Linked DNA regions of Homo sapiens: region 2 is linked to region 1. Evidence: fine-mapped expression QTL. A gene starts in region 1. The other region holds a variant in brackets. All regions are shown on one strand. Distances are between the middles of the regions. Region 1 holds the start of TENM1 (teneurin transmembrane protein 1). Region 2 has its middle 27 kb from the start of TEX13C.

The links.
Region 2: its variant is fine-mapped to the expression of TENM1 in whole blood (TOPMed, PIP above 0.99).

Annotation. Positions count from the first base shown.
Region 1 is chrX:125,201,106-125,209,606 of GRCh38, forward strand. TENM1 (teneurin transmembrane protein 1) reads right to left here and starts at 3,207. Exons shown (of 35, transcript NM_001163278.2): 1 at 2,699-3,207. It overlaps LOC124905211 (a long non-coding RNA gene), which reads left to right and starts at 3,355. Exons shown (of 2, transcript XR_007068314.1): 1 at 3,355-3,594; 2 at 3,937-7,015.
Region 2 is chrX:125,288,913-125,297,413 of GRCh38, forward strand. No RefSeq gene overlaps it. Among named protein-coding and RNA genes, the nearest start is that of TEX13C, 27 kb to the right of the region's middle. The variant G/A (reference allele first, on the strand shown) is at 5,092.

The DNA.
Region 1 (8,501 bases):
CAATTTAAAGTAATATTGTATAGAATAAACTTGAATGCTAGACTGTTCTGCTTCAGCAAGAATCTTTCTGGTAAAGGTATCAGAAAGGATCAATGACTATGAGGGAAACTATGATTATGTCGGTGTTATTTACACATATAATAGCTGAATTGAAACACTGAGAATTCTAGGGTATTCAGACTGAATTAGGCCTTTGAATGTGATGATAGTTATGTATAATACAATTTTATTTTAATACACCTAAACGTTTGAATATTTGAAATCTTAATCACCTTTACAGCACAATGATTCTACAAAGCATTCTTTCCTTTAGCCTCACTGTATATTTTGTCAAATGACATGACTGTCCCTAATTCATAATTGGAACCTAAACCTAATGGAAAATACTACTTCATGTATGCAAAAATATTTGTGGGGTTTTTTTCTGCTATGTATAGCTGACATTGTTCTCAGGACTGGACTCTACTAGTTTTATTATGAAAATGTTAACATTTCTTCATAGAGTTGTTTTATAGAAACACCTGTTTTTCAGAAACATTCTGGGGAACAACCTGAAAACTTTTAAATAATATTTAGAGCATGGATTTATTTTAGGAATTACCTGATCCCTTTTTAAATGCATATTTCGACTTTCTTTAATCATGAAAAGTTTTCAACATTATTTTGTCATACCTGAAAGCTTTTAATTACTCTTAAAAACCCCAACTTTGCCATAGTAAATTATTTAATGCATCACAAAATAGTGTTATGAACTTGAACTAAAATGGCAAAATTGGGATTCTGTTTCTCCAGTTATGTACTTTGAGGGTCTTACTATGCCTTATGAAAATTCATTTTTCCCCACGTTGCAGATATGAAGAGCAAGGAGCGGGGGTGAGCAAGCAAGCAGATGCTGGGTAATCATGGAGCAGAAGTTAAAGGTGTGGATCGCCTTTTCATTAATTTTGTTTTTTAAGCCTTTCCCTCTTAGACTCTTCCCTTTCTTGGTAACACTGGAGTATCTACTGCTCCAGATCAGAAGACTTCGGACTAGGAAGATGAACTGGGCTATTTCAGCCAAAAAATATAATAGAGCAGACATTTGCCATGTTCTCCTCAAACACGTTAAGAGTAGCAATTGATTCTCACAGTACATTGTTACCTGGCTTGTTAATTATAATCATAGAACAAGAGTCTAAAATTCAAGGAAGCTGTCTGCGACACTTACTCGTCACAAACGCGATCAATTAAACGCTAATCTAACAGTACCTATTAGAGTGCACTGGGATGTTTCGTTTCCTTTTGGTCTTTAAAACCAAATGGCTACTAATTTCCTTTCTGTAGCACTGAGAACTTCTCTTTGTATTTCTTTGGGCCACCTCAAAAACACCTCCAGGTTGGTATCCCAGGAAAACAACGGTTAAGTTCAGGACGTTTACTGACCAATTGCTTCATATTGGAGATGTAGAGCTTTTCTACCCCTATTAGCATATCGCCAGTAGCAGTGATGCAGATCTGCTCAACCCGAAGCTGCCGACGGCGAGTACGAGCTGCAAACCAGCCCCCGCCCCCGCCCCTACTCTCCCAGTGGCGACACAGACGTGGAAACATCTACTAGTGGAGTGAGATCCTCTGTCTCCGCAATTGTAAACAACTGACTGCATCGGGTTCACTGAAATGTTTAAATACACTCCTGACTGCAAACACATCCACTCACCAAGTAGCGCTAACAATCTCCCCTTCTCCGCCTCTAGGCAAAGCATCCTGAAACTAAATTGGCAATCCTCCTGTTATGGAGTGGAAGAAAGTGAGGTTACATTTCCCCAAGCCTGCCTAGCGGGTGCTTGGCGCTCGCAGATATGCTGGCCGTTGCTGAATCTCGGGGACCAAGTCTCTGGATGAAATGCGGAAACACACAAACCCGCACATTGGAGCGCATGGTTAAAGTCAACACCGACGGCTCCTGGAGCACCGCCTGGGTTGTAATGACTATCTCTTTTGACAAAGATTGACAAAGGTATAGGGAGGACGCATCGGGTGGGGCCCTCGACGGCGGCGTAGGTTAGGAGGTCCTGCAGTTCCCCCGGGAACCCGGGCTCCCTGAGTGAGGCTCAAATAGAAATTCAGAAGCAAACAGGTACTAAAGTGCGTCCTAGCCCTTGGGCATATTCTCTGCGGAGACAGCAGGACCTGGACCCCAGTGGCAGAGCCCCAGGCGAACGCTCCAGGGTGGGAGGGATGCCAGAGAAGCGCCCCTTTCTTTCTTTTTAGACCGAGCCTCCCATCCTCACCCCAAGCACCCAGGTCCACTTGTTAGAGTGACTGGGCTCTGCGCGAGAGCCGAGGCGAGGAGGCTCCCTCTCAGAACTGAAGGAGTTGGTTGGTAAAAGTGCCGCCTGGGAAGCCCAGCGAGCCCTCGAAGGGCAGCGTCCCCAGGGCCCGCTGGAAGCTTGAACTGCGAACAAGGCCGACCTCCCTTCTGCCCCAGATGGTCCAGAGCCCCATGGCCGGCGGAGACCGGGAGAAGAAGGATGCGGAGGCTCTGCCACCTCGGGCAGGAGTCCCAGAGCGGACTCAACCGGCCGCTAACAGCCAGGAGCCGCCATCCGCCGCCTGCAGCCTCGGGGCGAAGTTCGCCTGTAGTCCTTGGGGTAGAAGGTTGGGGGTGGCGGGCGGGAGCGAGAAGGAATGGGGTGGGAGCCAGGAGAAACGCACCTACCTATTCCAAGCGCAAGTTTCGGCGGCGTCCCCAGGTGCTGTTCCCCCGCCCCCTCGCCAGGTGCTCGGCTCCGCCGGGCGCTGCCAGTGCCCGGGACTTAGGGCGTCTCGGCCGACTCCTGCGGGAAACGACTGTAAATCCACATTACTGTTCGAGCTGCCGCTCGGGCCCCCGCATTGCTCTCCTCCGGCTGCTGGCAGCGGTGCTCTAAACCGGCGGCCGCCGGAGGCAGGAACCGAACCTAGCTACTATTGCACCAGCGGACGACCGCTGCCAGAAGGGTGCTTGCGCCCAGGGTCCTATGTGTGTGCGAGAGAGTGTGAATACGTGTGTGTGTGTGAGTGAAAGAGAGTGTTCGTGTGTGAGAGAGCAGAAGGGGTGAGCTCAGCCCCCGGGGCACTCGGAGGTGAACTCCGGGCTGAGCCGAAGCTCGCCGCGCTCCCGGGTGCTGGGCGTCTGCTCGGCTGATGGCTGGGCTGATGTTGCCGTGGCCGCCGCCGCCGCGCTCTAAGGCTGGTCGCGGTGGTGCAAAAAATGTTTCTCCGCTACTCGAGACCAAAAAACCTGCCCTGTCTACTGAGCATGCCCGGTTTGACAGCTTCACAGCCGAGGTTTTTTTTTTTTTCTCCTTTTCCCCAAGACTCCAGGTTTTAGCCGCAGCTGAGATGGGAGGTGGAGGGAGGTGGGGGGAGGAGGAGAGGGAGAGGAGGAGGAGGAGAAAGAGGAGAAGGGCTTAAGGAGCAAGTATCGGGCAGAGGAAGGGAAGTCGCAATGAGAAAGATCAGGGTGTTATAGGGTGGAGAGGGGAAGGAGAAAGCTGGATATGGAAGCAGAGGAAGGAAATATGGATCAACAAAATTTAGATTTCCTACTACAGTGGATAGATGCCTGGCCAGGTGACTCACTCGATGTTTTTTTTTTTTTTTTTTTTTTAATTACTTTCTCCTGAGGGTGAGGGGTGGGGTGGGGGGTTCGGATGAGTATTTGTCAACCCCAGGATCAGCCTGGGACAGTGTTACCTAGTCATGACATACACAAACATCGCGTGCACACACACGCGCGCGCACACGAGCGCACACACAGGAGCACAATCACTGCTTCTATGTTCAAAGCCTCAGGACTGACTTAGAATGCGAAGTCTTTTGCCAGTATAACTTTGGCAAAAAAAAAAAAAAAAGGGCGGGGGGAGAGAAATTGTTTGGTTTCCTTTTCTTATTCTCCTCTCCCCCGCCTTCCAGAAAAGCCAAAAGCCCGTGAATGCGGTGCATAAGCGACCCACAAGCTCTCGTGCGTCTGTCGGTGAGAGTGCACCGCCGACTGCGTCCTGCTGACAGTGTGACCCCAGAGCGCCAAGGCCGGCCGGCCACATGCAGCCTACTGGCGGCGCATCAGATCAGCAGTAACGACGTCCACCTGAAGGTGGTTGGGGGAAGAGGGGAGCGCTAAGGGATCCTGCCCTGCCTGGCCGCCCAGGTTCCTGGGCTCCCTAAACGGCTCCGCCCCTCACCCAGCCTGGCACCAGGGCACGTACTCGGGCGAACCCAGCGCGCTGCCCCAAGCCCTGGATCCCTCCCTCCCTCCCAACCCTCCTCAGCTTCCTCGAAAAAGCGGAGAAGCGGAATCTGCACGCCCAGAAACTCGCGTCAGAAGCCTTAGTAGTCCGACTGGGCATGCTCGGGACTTGGGGCGCTTCGCATGGAGGCACTCTCCAGCGGCTAACATCTGTCCGACTGGGCCAGATGTGAGTCTGAAGTAGGAGGCTTGGATGCACGCTAGAGCAGGCTCTGGTTCCGGGAGGGGTGGCGGCGACGCCCACAGCAGTCTTCTTTCCGGCTTCCCACAGAGAGCAAGACCGTGGGAGATACCAAGTGCCGAGCCAGGGGAGCTGCACAAACTGGAGAAATAGGAGTCTAGCGGATTCCCAGGCCTCCTGCCCCGCGGTGCCACCCCAGCCGTAGGCAGGTAGGGGGCGCGCAGAGCAGCTAGGGAGCACCGCGTGTGCTCCCAAGGGACTGCTGACCTCTAGGTAAAGAAAAGAGAGCGTGAAGAGTCGAACATTCTTTGGGCGAAGGACGTTTACTGATTTTTTTTTTTTTAAGTAAAGAAAGAAGGGCGTGTGTGAATGCGTATATGTGCACGCACGTTTTAAATTTTCCTCCGCAAGAACAGGGACAGGAGAGCGAGAAGCTATTGCCGAGTTGGGAACCCGCTAGAGGTTACAATAAGGCAGGCTTGGAGTCGTGGCTGGTGCTAGTTACCGGGAAGAGTTCCTCTTGGCGCGGTGGGCGAACACCAAAGCTTCCAACTGTTCCCTTCCCTGGGTGGCGGCAGCTGCCCAAGGTCGGCTTCCGGGCTGGTCTCTGTGCTCCTGAGCAGGGGGACCAGATTCAGTTTCAGAAAGAGAGGTAGTACAGAGTGACGCCAGGGGGAGTTCTCTGAACCGTGTGTTCCCATTTTCCCAGCTTTTGATATAGGTATTTGCAAAGAGGGAGCATTGTAAGACCATCACACCACCAAGGGGAGGAAATACAAAGAGCTGAACACTCTAGGGGGAAGAATCAGGGAATCAAGAGCACGTTTATTCCCATCGTCCCTTCCCAACAAGGTCTTCAGCTTCAGGCAGGAATCATTTGGATCCCTGCGGCTCAACACCCTCCCACTCCCGTCCCGCCCCACCGCCCTGCCAACAAAGAAACAAAAGATGACAACCAGGCTCTGTAGGGGCATAGCAACTGCTTCTATCACCGGCTCTCTGTTGGGCTGTTGAGAAAGCAGTAGTGAAAGGATGGGTATAAAACCTGTGTCTTGCCACAAATATGTAAACGAAACCTTCCTAAAACCCACTACCCTCCTACAAAACAAAAACAAGTTATTTGTATAAACATATATAGATTTAAGTATCCTAAATAAAGATTCCACATTATGAACTGCCCAAACCCTGAACTGTGGAAGGAAGACTTTCAGGATACCTCCTCAATCCTTACCAAAGAGTTCTGGAAGGAGAAAAAAAAGAAACATCTGGCCAGTCACTTCTCCAATGACTGGAAATACTCTGGGTGTTTCCGTAACCAGCGATTAAGAAAAGAACTCCCCATAACAAAAAGGGAATTCTGGCCAAATGGGACATGGACAAACCCTAATGACCAAGGAAATGGAATATGAATTTAAAAGCATGATTATCTCACTCTCATTCTTGCTGTTCCTTTGTTACTCTTCTTGAAGATACTGGCAGAAAGGGAGAGTTGATACTTAGGGATTTCATGAAAGGAGGCCGAGTTTGTTTCTCTCCTGGCAATTCAGCAGTCCCTGTAATCATTTTTTTTTAGAAATTCTCTACCACCTCCTCTTTATGCTGTATTTTCTCTAGCATTCTTCCCTCTCATTTCCTTACTGGTCTCCTGTGGCTCCCTGGTGTCCTTAATTCATTTGGTCTGCACCTGTCTCCCTTTAGTTCCTTCAAAACATTGTTTCCAGTCCTAATTCCGAAGTACAGAGGGCTCTGTCACTTTTCTCTGTTTCCTAAGAACTGATTTGCTGCTTCTAGACGCCTATATCCTGATATTGTAGGTGGATTTCCTAAGGCATTTATTCAACTTTAGAGATTCCCCAGACACATTTAAGCAACATGAAATTGCAGAATTTTCAAGTAGTTTTGCTCATGGGACCAAGAATTTCTATTTCAAATATGAATATCAGGAAGAAGACACACTAAATTGCTAGTTTCAGAATAGCCAATGTAAATATAACAGATTGTAATGGAGCATGCAATCTCTATATGACAGTTGTCCAGTTGCCAAGTGTATATTATTAAAATAATTTGCTAGGAATTTTAAGATATATACCTTTTTGTTAACAAAGACACACACACACACATGCACTCATACACCTTTTTATGTTTATTCCCAAAACTAATGTAATTACATAAATTCAATTCAGCAAGTGATTATGGAACATCTACTATATTCCAGGAACTGTGCCAGCATTGGGAATAGGCAAAGAAATTGAGACTTAAAGAAGCTAAGAAATGTTCAAAGATGTGTGAACAATTTGCTAATCAACAAGTATATACTGTGTGACTGTTACCGTGTATCTAGACTATTTCACTCCTAGAGAACAATATTTAGATGTTCTGGCCTTGATTTTTTAAATATATTTTTAATCTATAGGTTGCATTCTGTGAGAAGAATGCATAATGGAAAATATGACATGTCAGTTTTGTTTCTAAGTACCCTCATAATAAGAATGTAAGTACAATAATATTTGTATTAGTCTATTCTCACGCTGCCAATAAAGACATACCTGAGATTAAGTAACTTATACAGGAAAGAAGTTTCATTGTACTCACAGTTCAGCATGGCTGGGGAGGTCTCAGGAAACTTACAATCATGGTGGAAGGGGAAACAAACATGTCCTTCTTCACATGGTGGCAGCAAGGAGAAGTGCAGAGCAAAAGGTGGAAAAGCCCCCCATTATAAATCCATCAGATCTCATGAGAACTCACTCACTATCACAAGAATAGCATGGAGGCAACCACCCCTATATTCAGTTACCACCCACAGGATCTCTCCCATGAAACACAGAGATTATGGGGACTACTATTCAACATGAGATTTGGTGGGAACACAACCAAACCATATCAATATTAGAAGACTAAAGTCAATATCAATTACATAAACAAAATCAATGTGCACCATCTGAAATGAAGGAGTTTTGTTTGGTTGCTTGTCTAATGGCAAGATGTTTTCAAAGGCATAATTTCAACATGTACTCGTTGTGGTAGACTATTATTTCCTATTTCAACTGATAACAACACCATCCAGAGATCAACTAGCAGAGATTATGAGTAGTGCTGGCACCTTAACTTTTGGCTACAATGATTGGAAGCAGGAAAGGTAGCTTAATGATTTTCTACCCAAACAGCTTCCATAAACAGGGCTGTAAAATTGCAGTCACCAGCTTGCTGCAAGGGAGTGCCCATTTCCGGCCAGCTGTGGGCTCCCCCTGGGGAAAGCAGCCACCTTGGAGGAAGCTTATTTGAGCCTGGATATGAACAGTTGGTGGCCAGGATTCTGCATCCATCTGTTCAGAACAGAGTCAGACACACTATTTTTCACATACCCAAGTAAGGCTCAGGAAAACAACTGGCAAGCCAATTAAAGTCTTCTCTTTACCTAATCCTATTTAGTATCCAAATGGACCCTGTGGAGCTACTTCTCTGGCCAGAGTGCGAAGGAGAAACAAAATGCCTTTAAAAAAAAGTTTGGGCTTTAGCAAGGCACTTTGTATTCCACACAGCAAGTTCTGCTCATGGAAGTGTACATTCATATATAATATCCCTCACTGGAAAGGCTCCATCAATGCTGCTTTACCTTACTCTCAGAATAAAATACATCCCTAATACAGACTAATCATAACCTTCAGAAACCAAAGCTTCTCAATAGGGTGCAGTGGCAATTCATTTGTATTATTGCTATAATGGATTCAAATAACTGCCTAAATTTAAATTTATAGATAGTTTTAAAAATGGTACCTTGGTCCTTAATTTATATAAAATTCACTTATATTCACTATCCATACACATAAACCAATATGGCAATAATAATAATTTATACCCTCATAAAGATAACATAGTGCCTTCCCTTGAAGATCTGAAAGCTGACTTAATGCTAGTGTTTGTCTTTTTATTGGAAATACTTTTAAGAATATTACTTTTTAGCATTTTTTAACTATCACAGTTGTTGAAAAGGGGAAAAAAATTGATTTCAAAATGTACCGTGATTTCTCCTTAAGAGATAAAATTACA
Region 2 (8,501 bases), 88 kb after region 1:
TAGAGCTCTGAAAATGAGGCCACTACAGAGAGTCCCTATTAGAGTAATGCCTAGTAGAGCTGTTGGAGTAAGTCCGCCATCAATACCCCAGAGCTATAGAGTTACCGGAGTGCAATACCAGCCTGAGAGCTGCAGGCATGTAACTCCAACCCAAGGGATCTGAAGCATGGACTGAGCCCAGTAAAGCTGTTGGGGCAGGGCTGCCAGAAGCCTTGGGGGCCCGATCTCCACCCCAGTGTGCCCAGGGTGCTGAACATGGAGTAAAATGAAGTTATTCTCCTGCTTTAAGACCTAACGTTGTTTTCTCTATTGAGTTTTGGACTTACCTGGGACTGGTTACCCTTTTCTTCCTGCTTATTTCTCCCTTTTGGAATGGGAATGTCTAGCCTATGACAGTCCCACCATTGTGTATTAGAAGCAGATGATTTGTTTTGATTTCATAGGGTCACAGCTGGAGAGAAATGTGCCTCAGTGTGAATCATACCTTGTGTTCATGCATATTTGATTTAGATGAGACTCTGGACTTTGGACTTTTGAGTTGATGCTGGAATGAGTAAAGGCTCTGGGGCTATTGGGGTGGAGCTAATGCGTTTTCATATGAGAAAGATATGCACTTTAGGGGCCAGAGGTAAAATGCTATGGTCTGACTGTGTCTCCCAATGTTGATGTGTTGGAAACTCAATCCCCAGTGCAGTAGTTTTAGGAGGTAGGACATTCAAGAGGTAATTAGGTCATGAGGGAGTGGGTTTGTTATTGTGAGTGGGCAGTTATGAAAATGAGGTTGGCCCTCTCTTACTCTTTCACTCTTACCCTCCCACCTTCTGCCATGAGATGATGAAGGATGAAGGCCTTCACCAGATGTCAGTGTCATACTCTTGGACTTCCTAGTCTCCGGAACCATGAGCCAAATAAACTTCTTTCCATTATCTTTTTTTAAAGACAGCCTCACTGTTGCCCAGGCTGGAGTGCAGTGGCATGATCATAGCTCACTGCAGCTTTGAATTCCTGGGCTCAAACAATCCTTCCATCTCATCCTCCTGAGTAACTGAGACTATGGGCACACACCACCGTGCCTGGATAATTTATTTTATTTGTTATTTTTTTGTAGAGATGGGGTCTTGCTTTGCTTCTCAGGCTGGTCTCTCAAACTCCTGGTTTTAAGTGATCCCCTTGCCTTGGCCTTCTAAAGTGCTGGAATTTACAGGCATGAGTCACCATGCCTGGTATAAACTTATAATGTTTATAAATTACTCAGGATGTGGAATTATGTTATAGCAGTACAAAACGGAGCAAGACAAAACCAAAATGAGGGTCGATGCCTGTCATATTTCTCAAAGTCTATGCCATGCTCCTCAAAGCATTCATACAATAATTAAATGCTGGTAACATTTGTCTCTGTAGACAAATATTTTTGGTTTCTATTATTAGACAATAAGAACTATAAAATCCCATAATGTTTTCAATTTATGTTTGAGTCCAAGAAGATGAGCACTAAATTTAGGGCTCAATTGCAACTAAATCAACCTGAAACTCTTAGCAAAATTCAATTTTTACTAACAAATGGCATTTAATTTACATAGGCTTAGCTTTAATATTTAAATCAATTTATATAATTTTAATGAATGGTGATACTATCAATTAATAAAAATGAATTTAAAATAAGCAAAAATATACATCTTTTAATAATTTCAGATTTTTTTTTTTTTTTAACTTTAAGTACTGGGATACATGTGCGGAATGTGCCGGTTTGTTACATAGGTATACATATGCATGGTGATTTGCTGCACCCTATCAACCCATCATCTAGGTTTTAAGTAAAAATCATATGCAGATAAGAATGCAGAAAATATAATTAGAATTTGGAAGAATTATAAATGAAAATATAAATGTTTATTTTCAAGTGCTTTTGCTCATATTTAAAAATTCAGTATTTGGAATTTAAAGGTCTCTGCTTATTTTAGAGTTATTCCAAAATAACTGGGAATGTCATGGTTCTAGTAATTTTTTTTTAACTAGCAAGACAAATATGTCTAAAGAAGGATTAAGCTTGTTTGTTGATGTGGAATTGTCAGTAATGTGTTTAGGGTGGAAATGTATTTCAATTTTTTGGTGCCTTTCCTTGAAAACTATAGAGTCTTCAGAGGCGTTTTCCCTAAGGGTCATACCATGTAGCTATCTTAAAGGGAAAAGAACTTTATAAGTAAGTACTTCTGATGCCTAAGGAATTAGTACCCTCATACTAGTACCTTTTTATATGGTTTAATTTTCCATCTCACAGTAACCAGTTTTATGTCATATGGGGAACAAATGCAGGGTCATTCTTTCTTTTTAGATTTGAGACAATTATCTGTACTATTTAAGTAAAAAGTAAACTGTGTGCTCCAGAGTGGCTGTCAATATTGACTAAATTGACAGAGCAATTACTCAACTTTCTATTTCATTTGCCTTTGTACACATAGCCACAAATCAACTGGCTCAGTTAACTTACTCTGAGGAATTAATTTCCTTTGAAAACCTAACTTTTTAGCATGGTACAATTTAATAATAAAGTAGAAATATTTACAGTGGGCAAACTTTGAAAATAAGTATAAAATTAAATTTGGTACTCAGATACTTGATATAAATTATGGTTATATTCATTTCAACCATTGCAATGACTCAAGCAGATTTATTCATTCAACAAGCATTCATTGAGACCTAATATGTGCTTTTCACCGTGCTAGATCTGGGGACACAATATAAAATATCATGTGTCAGCCTTCAACAAATTCATAGTCCAGTGGGAAAATCAGACACAGAAAGAGATAATTATACAACAATATGGTAAGTGCAGTGATAAGGTTGTATAAAATAGTGTTTCAAGAAAATTAATGTAGTGGCACCATGTAAAGTGCATTTGAGTTAAGAATATGACATTAGTAATATAAAGTAAGTATTATTACTATTCCTTTTTTATGTATAAGGAAACTTCAGAGGCTCAGAGAGATTCAGTCATAGTCTGGGATCACTGAGCTTACACATTCATGTGTTTATTCATTGATACATTCATTCATCAGAAACGATTCTGTAAGCCACGAACAGAGCAGTGATCAAAACAAACTGGATCCTTTCCTTATGGATCTTATAATAAATCCAAAAGTGCTCTGAGAATTCAGAGAAGAAGAAGATAATGCTACATATTTGAAATTTTAGAACGTGCAATTATACATTAAGAGGCAGAGCTAACAGGCTGGGCTCATCCCACTTGTCTGAAATGTAGTTCTTCTATGTTCTGCCAGCCAGGCTATGGAGTATGGAGTGGGCTTTCATGATGTTTATACATATATGGGCCTGCAGCATTTACTGAGTTATATTGTCTGAGTGGAATTTAAAATACATCATGGCTGTATAAACAATGTGATGAATAACATTAAAAAGTTAATTCTAATTAAAATCCCAGGGGTAACTAATTAGCATATGAAATGTCTTTATCTGAAGCAACACTTGGGGCTAATTAGCAGGTGAGGTATCTTAAATGAATACATCAACTTAGGGTTGGCCAATTTGCACAGGAATGTTAAAAATATTTTTTGATTGGAAAAAATAACAGTATTTTAGATATGTGATTGTCTGTGAATAGTGCAAGAGGACCAACCTCATTGGTATGAATAAGGTGTTGGAAATCTGCAAGGTGTTGGAAATCGGAAGTCTTGTGTCATAGGTACATTCCAGGACTGAAACTTATTGGTCTTGCATCTCCTTTTCACTGAAAATCTTACCCCTTGATAGGACGACAAGCTTCCACATTCTGCCATTTAGGTGAAAGAATGCAATTGCATTTGTTTTAGAGTAAACTTTTTATGCAAGGTGGACTTAAGGATAGAAAGAGGGGCCTCTTTTATCTATAAACAGGTTGTGAAGAAATGTGAGTACCTTTGTTGGAATTTGGTCTGAGGATTGTTTTCTCCTCATAGCCAGGTTTTTAGGGTTAAGGACAGATAGCCTCTATCTGTTTTTTAGTTACTGGTGAATACTAATTTTTATCAGAAAGACCTGACATTCACAGAATCACGAAAACAGGCTCAAGCCTGTTTGTTGTGGTGAAGAATTCATTGCCAACTGGGAACCAGAATCCACAATTCCCCAAATATCAAACTATCCATGATCAGAATGTTGGTGGTCAGTGGGAAGGAAGGAATTTATGTTCTTGAGGAAGAATAGTCAGCTAATGGTCGTATGGTTTCTATCCTCTAGAGAAAGTTAGAACAGAGCAACAATACTTTGCTTTTATTCCTGAATGCTTCACAAAGATGGTAAGGGTTCATTATTTCAATCAGCCAATACTTACTCTTTTCTTATTAGTCAACCTTGATTATATACTGAAATTGACTTTATAGGGACCCCGTCTTAGTCTATTTTGTGTTGCTGTAACAGAATACCTCAAATTAGGTATTTTTCTAATCAATGAAAATATTTTTAAAAACTTTTTATAGAGACATGGTCTCTCAATGTTGTCCAGGCTAGTCTTGGACTCCTGACATCAAGCCATCTTCACGTCTCAGCCTCCCAAAGTATTCAAATTACAGGCATGAGCTAACTCCACACAGCCATGTAATTTGTAAATGATAAAAGTGTATTTGACTCACGGTTCTGGAAGCTGGGGAGTCCAAGAGCATGGCACCAACATTTGGTGAGGGCCTTCCTGCTGCATCATCCCATGGTGGAAGGTGGAAGGGCAAGAGAGCATGAGAGCAAAACAGCAAGAGGGAGCTAAACTCGCTTTTGTTATAAGCCCCATCTAGAGATAAAAGAACTCATTTCTATGATAATAACATTCATCCATTTATGAGGGTGGAACCCTTATGACCTAATCACCTCTTATTAGTTCCTACCTCCCACCATTGTTACTTTGGGGATTAAGTTTCCAACATATGAAGTTTGGTGAACACATTCAAACCATACCAGACCTCTAACTTCTAACTGGTTGTAGATCTTGATGAAGACATTTCACAGCACTGCACTCAGTTTTGCTAGTGGTTTCCAAATTTCTCTCTCCTATCATTTGTTTTGCAATTTAACCTTTTCTTTTTACATCACAGTTCTGGAAGTTGT[G/A]TAACCCTAGACTCAGGCTAACAAGTAATTGAGTAATTGTGACACTGCTTTAACATACATAACCATTATTTCATTCAGGAAGTTACCTTTTCCTTCAGTCTATCTGAGGAAGTAGCCCTGGCTGCTCATTACTTCCTCCTTATGCTAGTCTCATCACTTTTTGGAGGATTTTATCAAAGAGATTATAAACAGACAAAACTTGATGACTGGTTGAATACTGGGAGTCATTTTGAAAGAGCAGTTAAATATAATGCCTAGGCTTCAAACCTAGGATTCCTGAAGTATATTAGTACCATTAATAAAAATGAAACTGAAAATAGGACCTGGCATAGCAGTCATCTAGAGTAAGTGAGACTGTATCTTATAGATATTATTTGCAAGTTATTGGACTAGAAGTGAGAACAAACTTCCTGCAAACATACTGCTTAATGAGTTCAAGAACTAAGGCTGTCAAGGTTAACATTACTTTACTATTTCAGGACATTATTGCCTAGGAAAATAAAGTTGCAACAAGGTTTTTATCTGAACAATAAGCTGATCAGTTAGCTGCCCTGCTCAAGGCAAGAAGTTACTCATCAGGGTAAATATCACCATTCTCAGGATGACAGATCACTCAATGTGCAAACTGCTTGCTTATCAAATGATTACTCATCAGGACACTTCAAAATTCTTGCTTTGCTGCATTCACCAATCTAAAAATCTGTGTTACAACTTTTTTTTCCGATTCCAGGCAGATCCCTTCTTTGAAAGACCTTCCTTAAGACAAATCCCAAAACTGTATGAAGATCTGCCCTTTCCCTTCCCCTTCCAAGACACTACTAAAAGTCTATCAAGGTGGTGTTTTCTCTTAATACAACACAGAATACATTCAACTTTGTCAGATCAACAAGATATTTTGGTGGTCTTTTTAGGGGTCAGCAGTCATAGATGTGATAGTTAAAGCTATGAAAATAAATTAGTTTTTTTTAGGGATACGCATAGCATGAGAATATAAAATGGCCTAGGAGAATGCACACAGAAAGTGAAAGGAAGAAGATGAGCCAAAGAAGACTATAACAAAAGAGAAAAACAGGATATTATTATAATTTAGAGCCAAGAAATGAGAGAGAACTTCTGTATTGGTAGGGTGATCATAATTGTCATGCATGAAAGGTTTAGAATAATGAGAATTAAAAGGAGACTGTGAAATTTGTTTAAAGGAAGTTTAGGAAACTTCAAAGAGAACAGTTAGGCATGGAGTGGATCTTTGGTTATTAAATGTGGCCAGTGGGTCTATACTAAATCTAAAAGAATTTAACTGAGAAAAGAAAGTGAAAATACATTACCATAGTTGAAAGAATCCCCTAAATCAAATTTGGCTTAGTGAAGCTTCCACTGGACTGGAGATATTCAAGGTAGTAGAGAAATGACGTAATGGTGCAAATGATTTAAACCAGACTTAAGCAAATTTTTTCTGTCAAGGGCCCTTCTGTCTGTGTCACAACTAGTCAACTGTGCCATCATAAAGCCAAGGAGGTAGCTAATACATAAATGAAAGAGTGTGGGAGGATGTGTTCCAATAGCACTTTGTTTAAAAATTGGTTGGCAGACTAGATATGACTCATGGACTGCAGTTTAAAGACCAGTGATTTAGACTAAGAAAGTGTTATGAAATAAAAGAAGTCTTTTGCAATCCAAATAGTCATGATAGTTGTCGATATTAAATACATTAACTGGACTTGAGCAACTATTCACAGTGTTTATAAAGAATGCCTGAAATTGCAGCTTCTGAAGACAGCTCTTCATTTTTCCCTAAAGAAAAATATTACAGAGCTGAAGCTGGCATATGATCTGTATGCATCTTGATCACCATACTGGATTATCCTACACTGAAATAAATAAGTCTTTGCGTGACACCACATTTTGCATAAAATGTATGTTTCCTAAATTAATAGCTTTTGTCAACTTAGAATTTTAATCAATGCATGCTACTTTGTTATTCAAATCTCCTGAAAACGAGAATAGAAAAAATTAAGATAATTAATACAAATTAACAAGATACTTAAGTTAATCCATTGAGTACTTCCACATTCACGTTTAGACTTACATAATATTAATGCCCTAAAAGAAGTTTGGATAGTGTTATTCTGAATAGGGAAGTAAATGACGGAAAAAGGATATTGCAATAGGTGTGGCTTGTGAAGCTCAACTATAGAAGTTTTAAAAATTTACTTTGTAATTCATTTTAACTTTAATTATCTATGAATCACGCACGTTTCATAAACTAGATGCTTGCAAATAATGTGTTTTGGGGATTGATATTATTGTCAAAGTGGAACTAAATAGTGATATTTAGTAATAAAGTTACAACAAAGTACTATATGCATTATAAACTAAATAATGAAACCATTTTTAAGATTAAGAAGTCTAAAAAAGGTGAGGTGTCTATATAGCTTTTTTATGTTTATTTAATCATGTTTAATCATGAACATGCACAATCATAGCATTTTATGTGCCTTTTATTTATTATAGATTACACTGTTTTGATTACTTAATCACTTTCCCTTTTCTTTAAATTTTATTTTTAATTGATGCATAATAATTATACATATTCATAGGGGACAATGTGATATTTCAATACATGCATGCACCGCATAATGATCAAATCAGGATAATTAGCATATCCATCATCTCGAACATTATTTTGACTTAGAATTAAGAAAAAACAAAACTTAAAATGTACTACATTGCAACATATAGGCCAAGTACTTTATATTGCAACACTATATTTTGTTTTCATAACAAATCTTATAAGTATTATTATTATTGTCATACTACAGGTAAGAAAAGTAAAGCACAAAATGATTATTAAACTTTGTAATAGTAATGGAGTTACTATTACAGTTCTGTCATAAATGGCAGAACTGGGACTTGACACAGTTCTATCTGACTTGAGTTCCCAATCACTAAACTACCCTAATATATCATCTCTGAAGAAAACTATTAGAGATAGGGCTGGGAAGTGCAACAATACAACTCATTAAGTAGTAAGTGTCTAGTATATGCCAGGTTCTAGTCCCACACTGGATATGCCAGATTTCCTATGGAAGAATTTTTTTTTTGACAGAGTCTCCTTGTGCCACCCAGGCTGGAATGCAGTGACATGAACATGGCTCACTGCAGCCTTAACCTTCTGGGTTCAAGTGATCTTCCCATCTCAACCTCCCAAGTAGCTGGGACCACAGATGCACGCCACCACAGTTTGAGTAATTTTTAAATTTTATTATTGTTACTTTTATTATTTTTTCTGTTAAATAGAAATAGGGTCTCACTATGTTGCCCAGGCTGATCTTGAACTCCTGGCCTCAAGCAATTCTCCTGCCTTAGCGTCCCAAAGTGCTGGGATTATAGGTGTGAGCCACTGCACCCGG